Linked DNA regions of Homo sapiens: region 2 is linked to region 1. Evidence: fine-mapped expression QTL. Tissue or cell type: testis. Region 1 holds a variant in brackets; the other region holds the start of a gene. All regions are shown on one strand. Distances are between the middles of the regions.

Region 1 (8,075 bases):
GAGTCCCAAGAGAAGTTTTGGGGTCCATCAGCTCAAGCCCTATGCCCTGCTGGCAGGGAAGGATCCTGGGATCACCTGCCAAAGGCCAGCCTTGAAGTAGTTGTGGCCAGAGTGTCCCCAGTGAGATGGGGAGTGGAGTCCCAGGGTGGGCTCCTGAGGCCACTGTGAGGGACTGAGAGGTGGCCGAGGCCTCGTTCTGCCTGTAGCATATGAGCTGGTGCTGCTGGGAACAATGGCAACAGAAGTACTTTGCAAACTGAGAAGCACCTTGTATATGGCAAAGGTCAGTGTAAATGGCATCACACTTTGCAACCGTAGTGTGTTGTGGACCTGTGAGCAGCTGGATTTGATGGGGAAGCCTGGTTGTGTTCTGCAACCTAATCTGCGGTTTGGTGGCAGCCGACGTGCCGCCTCCGTCACCATTCTCCAATGAGTGCCAGCTGAGCAAGCCTGGTGGGGAGGCAGGGGGAGGGGAGCCCCACAGCGACTCTGTGCCATGTCCCCTAGAGCCATCCTCCAGCAGCAGGGCTCACCCGTGGATGCCACCATCGCGGCTCTGGTCTGCACCAGCGTCGTCAACCCTCAGAGCATGGGCCTGGGCGGAGGGGTCATCTTCACCATCTACAATGTGACAACAGGTGGGCCCACATGTGAACTGCCATGGGGAAGATGGGCTTGTCCACACCACTGCGTAACCCCTTCTCCAGCCAGTCCCATCAACTCAAGCCCGTTTCTGGGTGTTCTTGGGCCCCCTGCCCTGCCCCATTTGCCTCAGCTGTGCAAAGCCCTTGTGTCAACTCCTGTCCCTGTGTTAGCCCAGAGTCCATCTCATAATGCAGAGATGGAAACTGAGGCCTAGAGCAGGCCAGGGGCTGTCTGCAGGGTCCATGACCACTCACCTGCCCTGCCCTACTCCAGGGAAGGTGGAGGTCATCAATGCCCGGGAGACGGTGCCGGCCAGCCACGCCCCGAGCCTGCTGGACCAGTGTGCACAGGCTCTGCCACTGGGCACAGGTGACGCCCCATGGAGGTCCCCCACTCCCACCCCCCAGGCCACTAGGACTAATCAGAACACCCCCGCAAAGGAGCAGCGCCTCACGGACAGGCTGTGACTCCCTGGCACGGGGGGACACGGAGCCTGTGGGGAACCCCCAGCCCCAACCTGCAGGGATTGAGAAGGTCCCCCTTGGGAACGGGCTCTCTGAGGTGATCCAGGGAGAGGGACCAGGCTGGACAAAGGCCTGGAGGGTTCAGTGGAGATGGGTTGGCGGGGCAGGGTGGGGCTCCTGGGGCCAGTTTGTGTAGGGCCCCTTGGGCTTGGCCATGGACTTTGTGGGGAGCCACAGGTGATTTGAGCAGGGAGGGACGTGGTCGGGTGTGGGCTCCAGAAAGCTCACTCTGGCTGCTGTAACTGGGGGGCCACATGTAGGGGTGATGGCAAACCTGGGAAGGCCTGGAAGCCACAGGGTTGAGAGCTGGGATGTGCCATGCAGGGGCCCAGTGGATCGGGGTGCCCGGGGAGCTCCGTGGCTATGCCGAGGCCCACCGCCGCCATGGCCGCCTGCCCTGGGCGCAGCTGTTCCAGCCCACCATCGCGCTGCTCCGAGGGGGGCATGTGGTGGCCCCTGTCCTCAGCCGTTTCCTGCACAACAGCATCCTGCGGCCTTCCTTGCAGGCGTCAACCCTGCGGTGAGCCCCACATGGTGGCCCTGGGTTCCTGGGTTCAAGGCCATATCCTGTCTGGGCCCAGTCCACACCCCAGCTCTGCCTCAGTCCCTCTTACACTGGAGGATTGACCCTCGGGGTGCTGGCCAGGACAAAGAGTACTTTTCATGGCCCTTCCAGCTCCCCGTGGCAGAGCCTAACTTGGGGTTAGGCTGCGGGGAGTTTATTGCCCAAGTGATAGGACTCCAAGGTGTGGATTTGGGCTCTGCCACCCGCCCTGGGGCCCCGGCCTCCTTCTTCCTCTCTCTGGCATGGCAGGAGGGCTTCAACTGCCACTCTCACCTGCCCCACCCAGCCCACTGACAGGCCCTCCCAGGAGTGAGATGACAGGCCCTAGGTGGACCCAGGCCCCACTGGGAAATTTGCCTTCCCTGGACCAGGGCCATGAGCTGGGTGAGTGGTGTCAGTCCCACCACCTCCTAGAGAATCAGTTCCCCGGTGTCCACCCCAGTGCCTCGGGACCCTGGGCCAGGGCGCCCCCCACTGTAGGGTCCTGAGGACTCCACCCATGAGAGCCCCGGAAGAGTGTGGCTGCCTCTGGGACCTGGCCCCACCCTGAGGCTCCCCCCACCCCCCAGCCAGCTCTTCTTCAACGGGACAGAACCCCTGAGGCCTCAGGACCCACTCCCATGGCCTGCACTGGCCACCACCCTGGAGACCGTGGCCACAGAGGGCGTGGAGGTCTTCTACACGGGGAGGCTGGGCCAGATGCTGGTGGAGGACATTGCCAAGGAAGGTCAGCCTCCCTGAGGTTCCATACCCCATCCCTGCTGGAGGAAGAGCCAAGTTCTGGGCACTGGGGGTTGAGGGCAGGCTCCTTCCCAGGCCCTGAGGGAGTGCAGGCAGTGCCCGGGACCCCGAGAGGCCATGCACCTAGCTCTGCCGGCCCAAGGACCCCTGTGGTCCAGGACCTCAGAGAGCAGAGCCTGCGGGTTAGGGCCAGCAGAGGGGCGTTACCGATGGTCACGGCAGGTCTGGGTAGCCGAGCTGACCATTCTCACAGGCTCTCATAAGCCAGCTCCCTCTCCCATCTTCCCTTTCTTTTCCCCAGCCTCCCTGCCTCTGGTCTCTGTCCACCCCTCCACGCCTGGCCCCAAGGGGCCAGTCCTGAGGCCACTGCCTACAGACCTACCATCATCCTGTGTCCACAAGGCAAAAGCATGAGTGGAATCCCATTGTGTGACCTGACAGCAGTGGCTATTCCTCCCCGCCTCAGTTTCCCATCTGTTCATGGAGCCCTCTCCTTCTCATCCCAGGGAGCCAGCTGACGCTGCAGGACCTGGCCAAGTTCCAGCCCGAGGTGGTGGATGCCCTGGAGGTGCCCCTGGGGGACTATACCCTGTACTCACCACCGCCGCCTGCAGGGGGTGCCATTCTCAGCTTTATCCTCAACGTGCTAAGAGGTAAAGCCCCTGCCCAGAGCCCTGGCGCCCACCCCCTCCCCCGCACCCCCGGCCCCCGGGAACTCAGACTCCAAGCCCAAGCCCAGCCAAGGCCCAGCTCAGCCTCCTCCTCCATAAACCGGGTTCACAGATGCACAATATGAAGACAGAGCTGTGGAAACCAATCAGGATGGTGGGTTTTAGAGCTGGCCTCCAGCTCGACCCATACGTGAGGCTTTGCTGAAGGGCGTGATATCATTCGTCCAGAGTCCTCCTCCCACTGGGTGACCAGTCCCAGACACAGAAGCAGGTGGGCTGTGTGGGTGGTGAGCTGCCTGTCAGGGGCGTGCACCTGGGGGAGCGAAGCCAGCCTAGCCCAAGGCAGCCTGCAGGGGGGTTCTGGCAGTGCTGAGGCCTGGGGCTGCCTGCGCTGGCTTAATATTAGTGTCCTGTGTCTGCCATTACAAATCACCACAAGCTTGGTGGCTTAAAATAACAGAAATGTGTCCTCTCACAGTTCTGGAAGCCAGAAGCCCGATATCTAGGTGTCCACAGGGCTGCATTCCATTGGGGGCTCCAGGGGAGAATCTGTTCTTTGCCTTGTTGACCTAAAT[A/G]AAAAACAGAACAAGGCTCTCAAAGAAAATGATGTTTGTTCCAGAGTAGGCATCGCGGTAGGAATACCCATGCTAGGGTAAACTATGTGTGTATTCAGGGAGGTGAAGGAAGACAAAAGTTTTCAAAGAGAAAATGAGGAAGATTATATAACTTTTTTGTTTACAATCAATGATAATTTATTGTACATTTTATTTTTTTCATTGCATTATTATTATTATTATTATTAATTATTGAGACGGTGTCTTGCTCTGTCGCCTAGGGTAGAGCACAGTGGCACAATCTCGGTTCATTGCAAACTCTGCTTCCTGGGTTCAAGTGATTCTCCTGACTCAGCCTCCCAAGTAGCTGGGATTACAGGCATGGGCCACCACACGCCGCTGATTTTTATCTTTTCTTTTTTTCCTTTTTTTTTTTTTTCTTTTTAGACAGAGTCTCAATCTGTCACCCAGGCTAGAGTGCAATGGCACGATCTCAGCTCACTGCAACCTCTGCCTCCCAGGTACAAGCAATTCTCCTGCCTCAGTCTCCCAAGTAGCTGGGATTACAGGCGCTTGCCACGACACCGAGTTAATTTTTGTATTTTTGGTAGAGATGGGGTTTTGCCACGTTGGTCAGGCTGGTCTTGAACTTCTGATGTCAGGTGATCCGCCCACCTCGGCATCCCAAAGTGCTGGGATTACAGGCATGAGCCACCGCGCCCAGATGATTTTTATCTTTTTAGTAGAGACGGGGTTTTACCATGTTGGCCGGGCTGGTCTTGAACTCTTGACCTTAACTGACCCACTTGCCTCAGCCTCCCAAAGTGCTGGGATTCCAGGCGTGAGCCACCTCTGCCTGGCTATTTTATTTTTATTTCATTAGTTTTTGGGGAACAAGTGGTGTTCGGTTGCATGGAAAAGTTATTTAGTGGTGATTTCTTTTTTTTTTCTTTTTTTTTTTGAGATGGAATCTCACTCTGTGGCCCAGGCTGGAGAGCAGTGGCATGATCTTAGCTCACTGCAACCTCTGCCTCTGAGGTTCAAGCAATTCTCCAGTCTCAGCCTCCTGAGTAGCTGGGATTACAGGTGCACGCTACCAAGCCTGGTTAATTAATTAATTTATTTATTTATTTTATTTTTTTAGTAGAGATGGGGTTTCACCATGTTGGCCAGGCTGGTCTTAAACTCCTGACTTCAAGTGATCTGCCTGCCTCAGCCTCCCAAAGTGCTGGAATTACAGGCATGAGCCACCGCATCTGGTCTTTAGTGGTGATTTCTGAGATCTTGATGCACCCATCACACAAGCAGTGTACACTGTTCCTAGTGTGTAGTCTTTTATCCCTCATTCCCCTCCCACCCTTCCCCTTGAGTTCCCAGAGTCCATTAGAGCATTTTTCTTTTCCTCTGAGACAGAGTCTCGCTCTGTCGCCAAGGCTGGAGTGCAATGGTGCGTCTCGGTTCACTACAAACTCTGCCTCCTGGGTTCAAGCGATTTTCCTGCCTCAGCCTCCCACGTAGCTGGGATTACAGGCGCCTGCCACCACAACTAATTTTTTTTTTTTGTATTATTAGTAAAGATGGGGTTTCACCGTGTTGACCAGGCTGCTCTTGAACTCCTGACCTCAGGTGATCTGCCTGCCTTGGCCTCCCAAATTGCTGGGATTACAGGTGTGAGCCACCATGCTGGGCCCCATTATATCATTCCTTCTTTTTTCTGGAGATGGAGTTTTGCTCTTGTCACCCAGGCTGGAGTGGAGTGCAATTGCGCGATCTCAGCTCACTGCAACCTCTGCCTCCCGGTTCAAGCGATTCTCCTGCCTCAGCCTCCCGAGTAGCTAGGACTACCCATGTGTGCTACCATGCCCGGCTAATTTTTGTATTATTAGAGACAGGGTTTCATCATGTTGGCCAGACTGCTCTTGAACTCCTGACCTCAGGTGATCCACCTGCCTCGGCCTCCCAAAGTGTTGGGATTATAGGCATAAGCCACCATGCCTGGCCCATTATATCATTTTTATTCCTTTGCGTCCTCATAGCTTAGCTTTGGTATATAACTGTTTCGGGCCTGGCATGGTGGCTCACGCCTGTAATCCCAGCACTTTGGGAGGCCAAGGCAGGCGGATCATGAGTTCAGGAGATCGAGACCATCCTGCCTAACACAGTGAAACCCTGTCTCTACTAAAAATACAAAAAATTAGCCAGGCGTGGTGGCGGGCACCTGTAGTCCCAGTTGCTTGGGAGGCTGAGGCAGGAGAATGGTGTGAACCCAGGAGACAGAGCTTGCAGTGAGCTGAGATCACACCACTGCACTCCAGCCTGGGCAACAGAGTGAGACTCTGTCTCAAAAAAAAAAAAAAACTGTTTTGAAATGATCATCCTTGGCTAGTAGGATGCATGGAAAAGTGATAAGGGTGGCACTGGACAGGCCACTCATGGGCAGATGTCTTTGCAGAAGTATTTTTTGTGTAAGATTGTGATGGCCTTCTTGTAAGGTTGTGAGCTGTTGTGTTTTTGAGGCAGGGTCTTGCTCTGTCACCTGGGCTGGAGTGCAGTGGCACTGTCAAGGCTCACTGCAGCCTCAACCTCCTGGACTCAAGCAATCCTCTCACCTCAGCCTCCCAAAGTTTTGGGATTACAGGCATGAGCCACTGCACCCAGCCGAGAACGGGGCACTTGTGCACGAGAGTCCTGTCTTCATGGCCTTTCCCTGGCTCTATTTTTCAGAGTTTTTTTTTTTTTGTTTTGTTTTTTTTTTTTTTTTTTGAGACAGAGTCTTGCTCTGTTTACTAGGCTGGAGTGCAGTGGTGCAATCCTGCCTCACTGCAACCTCCTCCTCCCGGGTTCAAGCAATTCTCCCTCCTCAGCCTCCCTAGTAGCTGGGGTTACAGGCACCCACCATCATGCCTGGATAATTTTTGTATTTTTGTAGAGATGGGGTTTCACCATGTTAGTCAGGCTGGTCTTGAACTCCTGACCTCAGCCTCGGCCTCCCAAAGTGCTGGGACTACAGGTGTGAGCCACTGTGGCTGGCTGCCGCTCTATTTTGAAAATTTTCACAGCCTCTTCCCACTTCCGGTGGCTGCCAGCATTCCTTGGCTTGTGGCTGCCTCACTCCAGTCTCTGTCTCCATGATCATACTGGTTTCTCCTCTGCTGTGTGTCCTCTCCTCTATGTGTCTGTCTTACAAGGACACTGTGGTCACATTCAGGGCACATCTAGATAATCCAGGATCATCTCCTCCTCTCAAAATCTTTAACGTACTTTAGGCCGGGTGTGGTGGCTCATGCCTGTAATCCCAGCACTTTGGGAGGCTAAGGAGGGTGGATCACTTGAGGTCAGGAGTTGGAGACCAGCCTGGCCAACACAGTAAAACACCATCTCTACTAAAAATACAAAAATTAGCCGGGCATGATGGCCTGTGCCTGAAGTCCTAGCTACTTGGGAGGCTGAGGCGGGAGAATCACTTCAACCCAGGAGGTGGAGATTGCAGTAAGCTGAGATCGTGCCACACACTCCAGCCTGGGTGACAGAACAAGACTTCCTCTCCAAAAAACACAAAAAAGGCGGGGCATGATGGCTTACGCCTGTAATCCTAGCACTTTGGGAGGCCAAGGCAGGCAGATCACTTGAGGCCAGGAGTTCAATACCAGCCTGAACAACATGGCGAAATCCTGTCTACTAAAAATACAAAAATAATTAGCTGTACGTGGTGGCGAACACATGTAGTCTCAGCTACTCAGGAGACTAAGGACCAAGAATCACTTGAACCCAGGAGGCAGAGATTGCAGTGAGCTGAGACTGCGCCATTGCACTCCAGCCTGGGCAATAGAGTGAGACTCTGTCTAAAAAAAAAAAAAAAAAAAAAAAAATCCTTAACTTACTTTTCCACTTAAGGTATTAGTCACTCTTGTGCTGTATAAGGTAATATCCACAGGTTTTGGGAATTAGGATGTGGGTGGATCTTTCTGTGGTGGGGGGTGGGGGCAACATTCAACCCATTACATAGGGTGACCCCAACCAACCTGTGCCCCAACCTCTCTCCAGGGTTCAACTTCTCAACAGAGTCTATGGCCAGGCCTGAAGGGAGGGTGAACGTGTACCACCACCTTGTAGAGACGCTCAAGTTTGCCAAGGGGCAGAGGTGGAGGCTGGGGGACCCTCGAAGCCACCCGAAGCTCCAGGTGAGGTTGCTGAGGTTGCTGGGCTGGTGGGCCGTCCTCCTCCCTGGCTCAGGACTTGGCATGAAATGAGGGTCAGGCCTGGTAGGGGGAAGTTGGAGGGATATGTATGTGGTTCTAGGCCAGGGCAGGACTGAAAGGGATCCCGGGGTGGCAGGTACAGGGGTCAGGTGCAGGAGTGGCACCATATCTCAAAG
Region 2 (8,075 bases), 49 kb after region 1:
TGCCCAGAGGCAGCAGTAATAGAAGCTGAGGACATCGTAGAGCCAGTGGGACATGCTGGGCACTCGGGGTGGCGTGCGGAACGGGGGTGCGCCCCAGTCATGGCCGCGGTCGGGAGTGCTGCCGCCGCTGGAGTCAGCTGTCAGGAGCTGCGTCCCGTCCGCTGTGTAGCAGCACTGCTGACCTGAGCCGTACCGGAGGCTGCAGGAGCCAGTGAGTCAGGGCCAGGCCACTGTTGGGAGCCCACCCCTGACCCCAATCCCCATACCGGCCCCAGCCTGGGGGCTCACCTGGCCTGCACAGAACGCACACAGTGCACGGCCCCGGGGTGGTAGGTGCACACGCTGCCCTGCTCCATGTCACAGCCGTAGTCCGTCTGCAGAGCAGCAGGTGGCTGTCACCCAGTGGCCTCGGGTTCTGTCATCCCCTCCCTGAGGCCAACCCTGCAGGGGTCCTGAGACCCCAGCCCCACCCTCCAGGACACCTCTGTCTGCCTCCCCTGGTGCTGTCCTCAGTGGGGAGGCTAACCCCTCATCCCCTCTCCTGGGCCCTGATGGGAGGCTCACGAAGAAGCGGCCGGAGTCAGCCCGGGCCTGGGTCAGGGTGCAGGGGCAGTCCGGCAGCTCCTCCAGGAAGTTGGGCAGCTGATCCTCCAGCTCCTCCCAGGCCTGGCACTGAGTTCGTGCCCAGGCCACAGGGTCCTCTCGGAAGTCATCGCTCAGGTGCCAGGCCAGTGCGTGGTCGTTGGTCCAGAGCGCCTGCACGTCCCTGTGGAGGTGATGATGCTGGAGCTGGGCCAGCCCACACCACCCCATGGTCGCCCCACTCTCCCCACCCCCAGCCTGGGCTGCCCAGGCAAGCATGATGGGCCTCGGGCGGCGAGGCCCTCCAGCCATCACCTGCACATCCATGCCTTCTTACTTCTGCCCTGCGTAATTTTTGCTGTCGATGATCCGAAGTGCACCCACTCGCCATCTCTGGTAGCTGGGAGGAGCAGGTTTTGGGGTGAAAGTGAAAGAGCCGGAGTTGGGGATGTGTGTGGCCAGGGGGTACAGGTACGACCACTTTGCAGTCCACTCCTGTGAGTAGGGCATTCCTGAGGGAGAGGATGCCTGGTTAGCCCTGGGGTTCCTTCGAGGCCTGGCCCCAGGCCTTGCCACCTACAGCAGCCTGACAGATGGGTGGATGGACCGCCAGGCGGTCCCCTTAGGAGGGGCTGTTCTAGCAGGGACCCCGGCTTGGGTGACCATCACCTCCTGCCACACTCCAGGATCCCTGTCCCTGCTGGAAGCTGGGCCCAGGGCCATGCCAGCCGTGCAGGGGTTCCTCATGAGCCTCCTCCCCTGGAGCCAGGCCCCATGAGCTGCCCCCTCCCACCTGCCTGACCCCCCTGACCTGCACTTCCCTCCATCCGAATCCTCAATCTCTGCCTGGAATTCCCTTCCCTCCTCAACCCCACCTGGAAACTCCCTTCCTCCTCCCACACAGCTGGGACCCCCTTTCTCCCCCTCTGGGGGCCCAAAGCTCTGATGCCACCCCAGCCCTCAGCTGGCCTCACCTGTCTCCTCGTAGCCCCACAGTTCGATGGTGATGGTCTGCGTGGGCAGCGACTTGACATGCCAGGTCAGGCTGAGGTTGCCTGAGGTGTTGGCGGTGCCGTAGTATTGCCAACGCGTCTCGTTCACCAACTCGCTCTTCTCCATCATTGACACTTTGTTGGGGTGCACTGGGCAGGGGAGGTGAGGGGTGAGTGAGGGCCTGGGCCCAGGGAAGCAGGGAGGAGGCCCTGAGGCTTCAAGGGCTGTGGGAGCCTCCAGGGCCAATGCATGGCAGCAGCTGGGTGATGGTCTCTCTGGCCCGCACAGCAGAAAAGGACGCTGAGGCCGCAGAGGCAGGGGCCTGCCCTCCCTCCACTGCCCACGCCTCTAGCCTCGACCTGGCTTCTCCCCTGCCCTGGCATGGCGGAGCTCAGTGGATAGGCACTGGCCCACCTCTCTAGGGACCCCTGCAGCTCCCACTCACTCTGGGCTGGGACCGCGGTCTGGATGCCAGGGAGTGGAAAGGAGCTGAAGGAACTCTCGCAGGCGGGCAGGCCTCCCAAGGGACTGGTTCAGCCAGAGAGGCAGGGCACGGACAGGCCAAGTCTCGGTGTGCATAGATTAGCGCTGGGGAAAGTCCCCGTGGGGGCAGGCTGTGGGCAGGGAGGAGGGCTCACCAGCCAGCCAGGTGCCCGCACGAGGGAAGGAGTGGCCGTTGTCCAGTGACACAGTGAAGGGGATGCGGCCGCTCTCATAGAGCAGAGGTGACACACAGTGCACTTGCCCGGAGGAGTCCACATGGCCGAGGGTCTGGATGCTGTCCTTAAACCTGTGGGCGTGGTGGTGGTGGGAGGGGCTGGGTCATTGCAGGCTGAGCCTCTCGATGGTCTGGGCCCCCAACCTCCCTGGGGAACCCAACCAGCCAGCTGTCCCTGTGCCCTCCTGCCTGTCCTGGGTCCGAGGGGCTCCACTCAGCCAGTCAGTGGGTCTGAGCCCTCAGCATGCACAGGGATGGGGGCGTGGGGCCCCAGTGCCCGGCCTCCTGGGCCTCCCAACCTGCAGATCACACTGGCGTCTGTGGGGCTGGACATCTTGAAGTGCCGCACCACAAAGTCCTTGCCGCCCATCATGGATCCTGAGTAGGGCAATATCTCCAGGCAGAAGTCCCGGAAATCCAAGCAGCAGGTGCCAAGGCCAGAGCACGTCGGGTGGCAGGAACATGGCCCGTCCAGGGCGCCACAGCGCATGGAGCAGCTCTCTTGGGCATCTGGAGGAGAGGATGCTGAGGGCCTGGCCCGGCGGGTACTGGACTGGCTGCCCCATGTGCAGGGCCTGTCTCTGTTTCTCCCACAGCCCATTAGACAGCAGCATCCCCAGGAGAACGCTGGCCAGGAACTGCACAGGCCACCAGGTGGACACAGTAGAAAGCCACAGGGCCCGTGGGGATGGGATGAATCTTAGCACAGACCATCTGGCTGTTGCCCTGACTGACGGGCTAGAATGCAGCGAGAAGAGGCAAAAAGCTGCATCCGCTCAGCCCTGCAGGGTCAGGAGAAGCCCCTGGGCATGACTGCCCTTCAGCCACCAAGTCCTCTATCCCACAGGCAGGGGTCCTCAGTGGGCCACGGTAGCTGGAGCCCTCGACCTCTCTTGGCTCCCCAGGGTGTCTGTGGTCAGCACGCCTTCTGGGGGCCCTGAAGCCTGCAGAAGAACCCCTCTTGCTTGCCTGGACTGGGGTGGGGGATATGGCTGCCAAGAGTCTCATTTGAGGCCTGGTAGGGAATGGTGCAGGGTCTGAACGTGACACTTCTCGCTCTCCCAGGGGCTGCAATTGAGACCCCAAAGAGAGCTCCGTGCTCAGGGCAGAAGGCCAGGGCCGCTCCCCTCCTTTCTGGGGAGAGGAGGGACATTTCAAGCAGGGGTCCCAGCAGTGGGGAAAGGGAAGTGGGGGTGCACACCACAAGGGGCTGTGGGCGCCGGGCCCAAAACTTCTCCTATGGGCCATAAGACCGGTGGGCAAGGCCATATTTCCAGGGGCTGGCATGAAGGAAGGGTTGCAGGGAGGGACTGGGGCAGGTGCATGCACCCAGGCTGGAATTGCACTTCCCTGGCCCTTCCCCATCCCCCATCAAAAGAGGCCAGTCGAGGGCCAGGCCTGGGCCTGAGCCACCCCGCTGGCCCCACTTCACCAAGTGCAGTGCCTGGCACTTAAAAGCAACAATAAATATGTACTGGCCAAGGATTTGGTGGCGCACAGGGGTCGGGGGAGGAGGCCGAGAGATGCTTGCAAGTGAGATAAGTGGCAAGAGGGTCGATGGGAAATGGGGTGGGGGACGGGGGGCAGCCTGGGACCAGTGTCCTGGTTCTGGAGTTCGGGGCTTTCCCTAGACTTTCCTGGATTCAGCCCCACCCTGATGAGGACCCACAATCCTGGCTCCCCCTCCGTGATCCCGCCCTGTCAGGGCTGGGGACACAGGCGGAGGCCTCTGCTGGTCTCCCCCGCCTCCCTCCTAGCTACCAGCAGGTTTAGGGTGGGCCCGGCTCAGACCTCCCATCCCCATGGGCTGCCCCTCCACATGGACCCTCAGAATTTCTTCCCATCACCCCTAGCACAGCCACAGATGGCCTGACAGATGGACAGAGGCTGAGCCCAGAGGGATGTCAGCCCAGGCCTGGCTGCAGACAGATGGACAGACAGACGGGGACACAGAAGGGCAGGGAGGCATACCTGCTGTGGGTCCGGGGCCCGGGCCGAGGGCTGTCGCCAGCAGCAGCAGGGCCCAGGGCAGGAGGGCTGGCTTCATGGTGCAGCCTGTGTCTGCAGCCAGCAGTGCAGTGGCTCCGAGGCGAGGCGGCCAGACAAGCTCACTCCCTGCTGGCCTGGCCCCGCCCGCCCTGCACTCTGCGGCACCGCCCCGCCCCGCCCCTCCCCGCCCCTCCCCACCCAGTCCCCTCTCAAAGTCCACAGGTGCCTGCGTGGACCAGCAAGGCCCAAGTTGCCCCGTTAGCACATTCCTGGCCCGCAGGCCTGGATCGGCCCTGGGACCCTGTGGGAGGGTGAGGAGGCCGGAGCCTCCAGCCACAGGACCTTTGGCAGGCGATGAGCCGGATGTCCAGAGGGCGAAGCTCAGACCCTGGGTCCCAGCCCCGCCTTGCATGCAGGGCGAGCCCGGCGGGGCTGAAGCAGAGGATGGGATGCGCAGGGTGAATAAGGCAGGGCTGTTTTAGCTCCAGGGAGGATTCCAGACTCTGTGGCCCTGACATAGACCTCCATCTCTAGCCCTCATCTTCCTGCAGGAAGGAGGTGCACCCAACTCATCCTCAGGGGGAGGCAGGAGCTGTTTGGGTCAGACACAGGCTGAGCCCTGGGGCGGAGGCAGCTCTGCAGGGGTCCCCTCTGGAGGGAGGAAGGAGGAAGGGGAGAGAAGGTACCCAAGCCCAGCGGGGGGCCCGGAAGGGAGACAGGGCCCATCCCCGGGCTCCAGAGATGCCACCACCCTGGGGAGCCTTGGCTGTCCCAGCCACACCTAATCCTGCCGCTAAGAGTTTGCATAATTTAATCAGTATTCACCTCCCTTCTTGAGCAGATGAGGAAACTGAAGCTCAGATGCGGATAGGCAAGGCCGAGCCAGGCCCTTGGTGGCTTCTGGGAGCCCCTGCAGCCAGGGCGGGTGGTAAGGGCTGCGGCCTGGGACTGGTCATTTGGACCCTGACACCTGGGCTGGACATCCAGACAGGCGGGTGGTCCTCTCCCAGCTGCAGCTTCTCAAGGTGTCCAAAAGGGACCCTTGCCACACTTGCAGGGAGTCAGAGGTGGCCCCAGGGCATGAGCTTAGGCCATCCGGTCTGTGATCTGCCCCAGCGCTTGCGGCCAGGCCAGCCCATTGTTCCCCGGCCTGTTCTCTCTCTTGCCTGGGTGGTGCCTGCTGGGAACCACAGGGTGTTGGCAGCCACCCGTGGCTCCAGAGAGGTGGCCCCTACTGAAAGTGTTAGAGGCGTGTGCTGGGGGACTTGGCTCCTGAGTCCCCACACAGAGCTGTTCCAGGGAAGCCACACCCGCATTTGATGTTTTCCCACCTCCCAAAGACATTTGGTGAGAGGCCCCCAAGACCTTCAGCTTCTCAGGGACTGTCTCCAGAGGGGAGAAAGTCCCTTAACCCACAATGGCGCTCAGGGCACCTCTGCAGGTGAGTGTCCTGTAAGTGGACGCTCAGGTGCTGAGCCAGGGAGAGCCTGTCTCCTGGCCCCAGGCTGGCGAGGGCATTCATCCCAGGCCCAGGGCTGAAGTTGCTCCCTACAGCACTGGGTGCAGGGGAGGGTCCGAGGTGTCCGTCCTCCTATAGGTGAGGCTCCAGGGAGGGGTGCTGGGGGATCGGCTGAGACAGTTCCCGGGAACTGGAGGAGGGAGAGCTGCTGCTTCCTGTTTTTGGCCTGGGCACCGTTGCTGCGCGTGTCTGGAGACAATGGAAGTGCGGTAGGGGCTAGGTGTGCAGTCTGGGAAGCTCCATACCCCAGGCCCTGCAGGGAGGGGGCGTCAGCTGAGTAACTGGGGCTGGCTTATCTCAGCCCCCCGAAAGGCGGGTTCAGCCAGACCCATCTGGGGCCACCAAGCCTCTGGTTCCAAAAGGGCGGTGCCCAGCCCTTTACGCCTTTCCTCCTGGGTGGTGGGCATGTCCAGCCCATGAGGGGCACAGGGCAGTGAGGAGGGTCCCCATCTCCATCCTGGACAGAGAGCCTGCTCCATGGGAGGTCCCAGGGCCAGGAGGGCCCCTGCGGTGCTGGGAGGGGAAGAGAGTTGTGAAGGGTGCCAGCTCTAGGGGCTTAATGCTCTGTGGGGCCTGCCTTAAAATCCTTAATCATTTTTGGTCAGACATGGTGGTGGCTCAGGCCTGTAATCCCAGCACTTTGGGAGGCCAAGGTGGGTGGATCACTTGAGGTCAGGAGTTTGAAACCAGCCTGGCCAACATGGTGAAACTCCGTCTATACTAAAAATACAAAAATTAGCTGGGCGTGTTGGCGTGTGCCTGTGATCTCAGCTACTCGGGAGGCTGAGGCAAGAGAATCGCTTGAATCCAGAAGGCGGGGGTTGCAGTGAGCTGAGATCGTGCCACTGCAGATCGTGCCACTGCATTCCAGCCTGGGAGACAGAGTGAGACTCCATATCAAAAAAAAAAAAAAAAAAAAAAAAAAATCCTTAATCCTTTTTGATCAAGGAGCTTCATATTTATGTCTTGCACTGAGCCCAGCTATTCTGTGACTGGCCCCATTAGGGCGACTGTGATGGGAGTTAAGTACCCTCCCTGCCGGCCCCATCCCCCCTTTCCCTCCCTGACAGCCCCCTCCTCCCAGCCTCTCAGCTGCCCCAGCCCTGCCTGCCCTCCCACCGTACAGCCTCCCACCCACTGGCACCCAGGTGCGTTCTGGGGATGCACCTAACTCCCCTTTGAAGCCTGGCTCCAGCTGCACTAGAGGCGTCTGCCTGGCCCAGCCCCGAGTCGGCTCTCTCCTTACCCCACTGGGCACCCCCAGCCGCTGCTTTGGTTGCCTGGCTGGTCCCTGAGATGCTGGAGAAGGAGGGGGGCTAGGCCCTGCCCTATGGACTATGGCAGTAAAGGCCCAGAATCCCTGGGGACAGCAACTCTCCGCCAGAGACTCTGCCAGATTGCCCCCTAGAGGTGAGCAAAGAGGCAAAGACAACTGTTCCATCTTTATTAGAAAAGCAACCAAAAAAAGGGTGAGGGGTGAGCCTGGCCCTAAAGGACCCCTCCACTGTGACACAGGCAGAGCCGGCTCATCCCGGCGTCGAGGGGTGGATATGGCCAGCTGGGTGTGGGCAGATTTACAAAGTCAACACTTCATAGAAAAGGATGCCGCCTGGCGTGCAGATGGCGACCAATCCACCTTCACATGGCTAAGGCGGGCCCCTCCTCCTCTGGGCTCCCATGTGGTGTGGACAGCCTGACCTGGGTACAGGGAGGATGCCATGAGGAGGTGGGCTGGGCAGGCCTGGGGGCTGTGTGGGGAGTGGCATCCATGTGGGCCTCTGGTCCTGCCCAGGGTCCTGCCCAGGGGGCATTCCAGGCCTGGCTGGTCCCCTGGGGCGTGGCGGTGGGGCTGCAGTGGCCCCTCAAATGTCCATGTAGTCGTCGTCCTCGTCTGTCTCGCTCTCCAGCGAGGACTCCTGGCTGGATGTCTCCAGGACCTCCAGGGCTGGCTGGCATAGGCTCTCCTTCCTCACGTTGGCAGCAGACTGGGCAGAAAGGATGGCTGACTGCGGAGAGGGCCGGGCGGGGCACTGGTCAAGGATGGCTGGGCTCTGCCCCAAGCCCCTCTGCCACCTTCACCCCTGCCCCAGGCCCCCCTCCCACCCTCACCCCTGCCCCAGGCCCCTATGCCATCCTCACCCACACCCCAGGCCCTCCTGCCACCCCCACCCCCATCCTAGGCCCCCTTTGTAACCTATGCCTCCCACCCACACATGGCTCCAGCCCAGCCCCTGAGGTCACCTTCAGCTTCTGCTTGGTCTCCTCCGAGATGCT

What was found. PIP is the estimated chance that this variant, and not a neighbour inherited with it, causes the effect.
Region 2: it holds the start of SUSD2, and the variant in region 1 is fine-mapped to the expression of SUSD2 in testis (GTEx, PIP 0.99).

What each region holds. Positions count from the first base shown.
Region 1 is chr22:24,226,437-24,234,511 of GRCh38, reverse strand. GGT5 (gamma-glutamyltransferase 5) reads left to right here. Exons shown (of 12, transcript NM_004121.5): 2 at 508-638; 3 at 919-1,014; 4 at 1,494-1,689; 5 at 2,304-2,461; 6 at 2,982-3,128; 7 at 7,745-7,881. Among named protein-coding and RNA genes, the nearest start is that of GGT5, 15 kb to the left of the region's middle. The variant A/G (reference allele first, on the strand shown) is at 3,722.
Region 2 is chr22:24,177,785-24,185,859 of GRCh38, reverse strand. SUSD2 (sushi domain containing 2) reads right to left here and starts at 4,373. Exons shown (of 15, transcript NM_019601.4): 1 at 4,265-4,373; 2 at 2,593-2,803; 3 at 2,214-2,365; 4 at 1,557-1,724; 5 at 920-1,094; 6 at 565-766; 7 at 289-374; 8 at 1-199. The coding sequence starts at 4,340. It overlaps CABIN1 (calcineurin binding protein 1), which reads right to left. Exons shown (of 37, transcript NM_012295.4): 36 at 8,043-8,075; 37 at 7,232-7,807. The coding sequence ends at 7,664. RefSeq lists enhancers at 2,144-2,253, 2,324-2,403.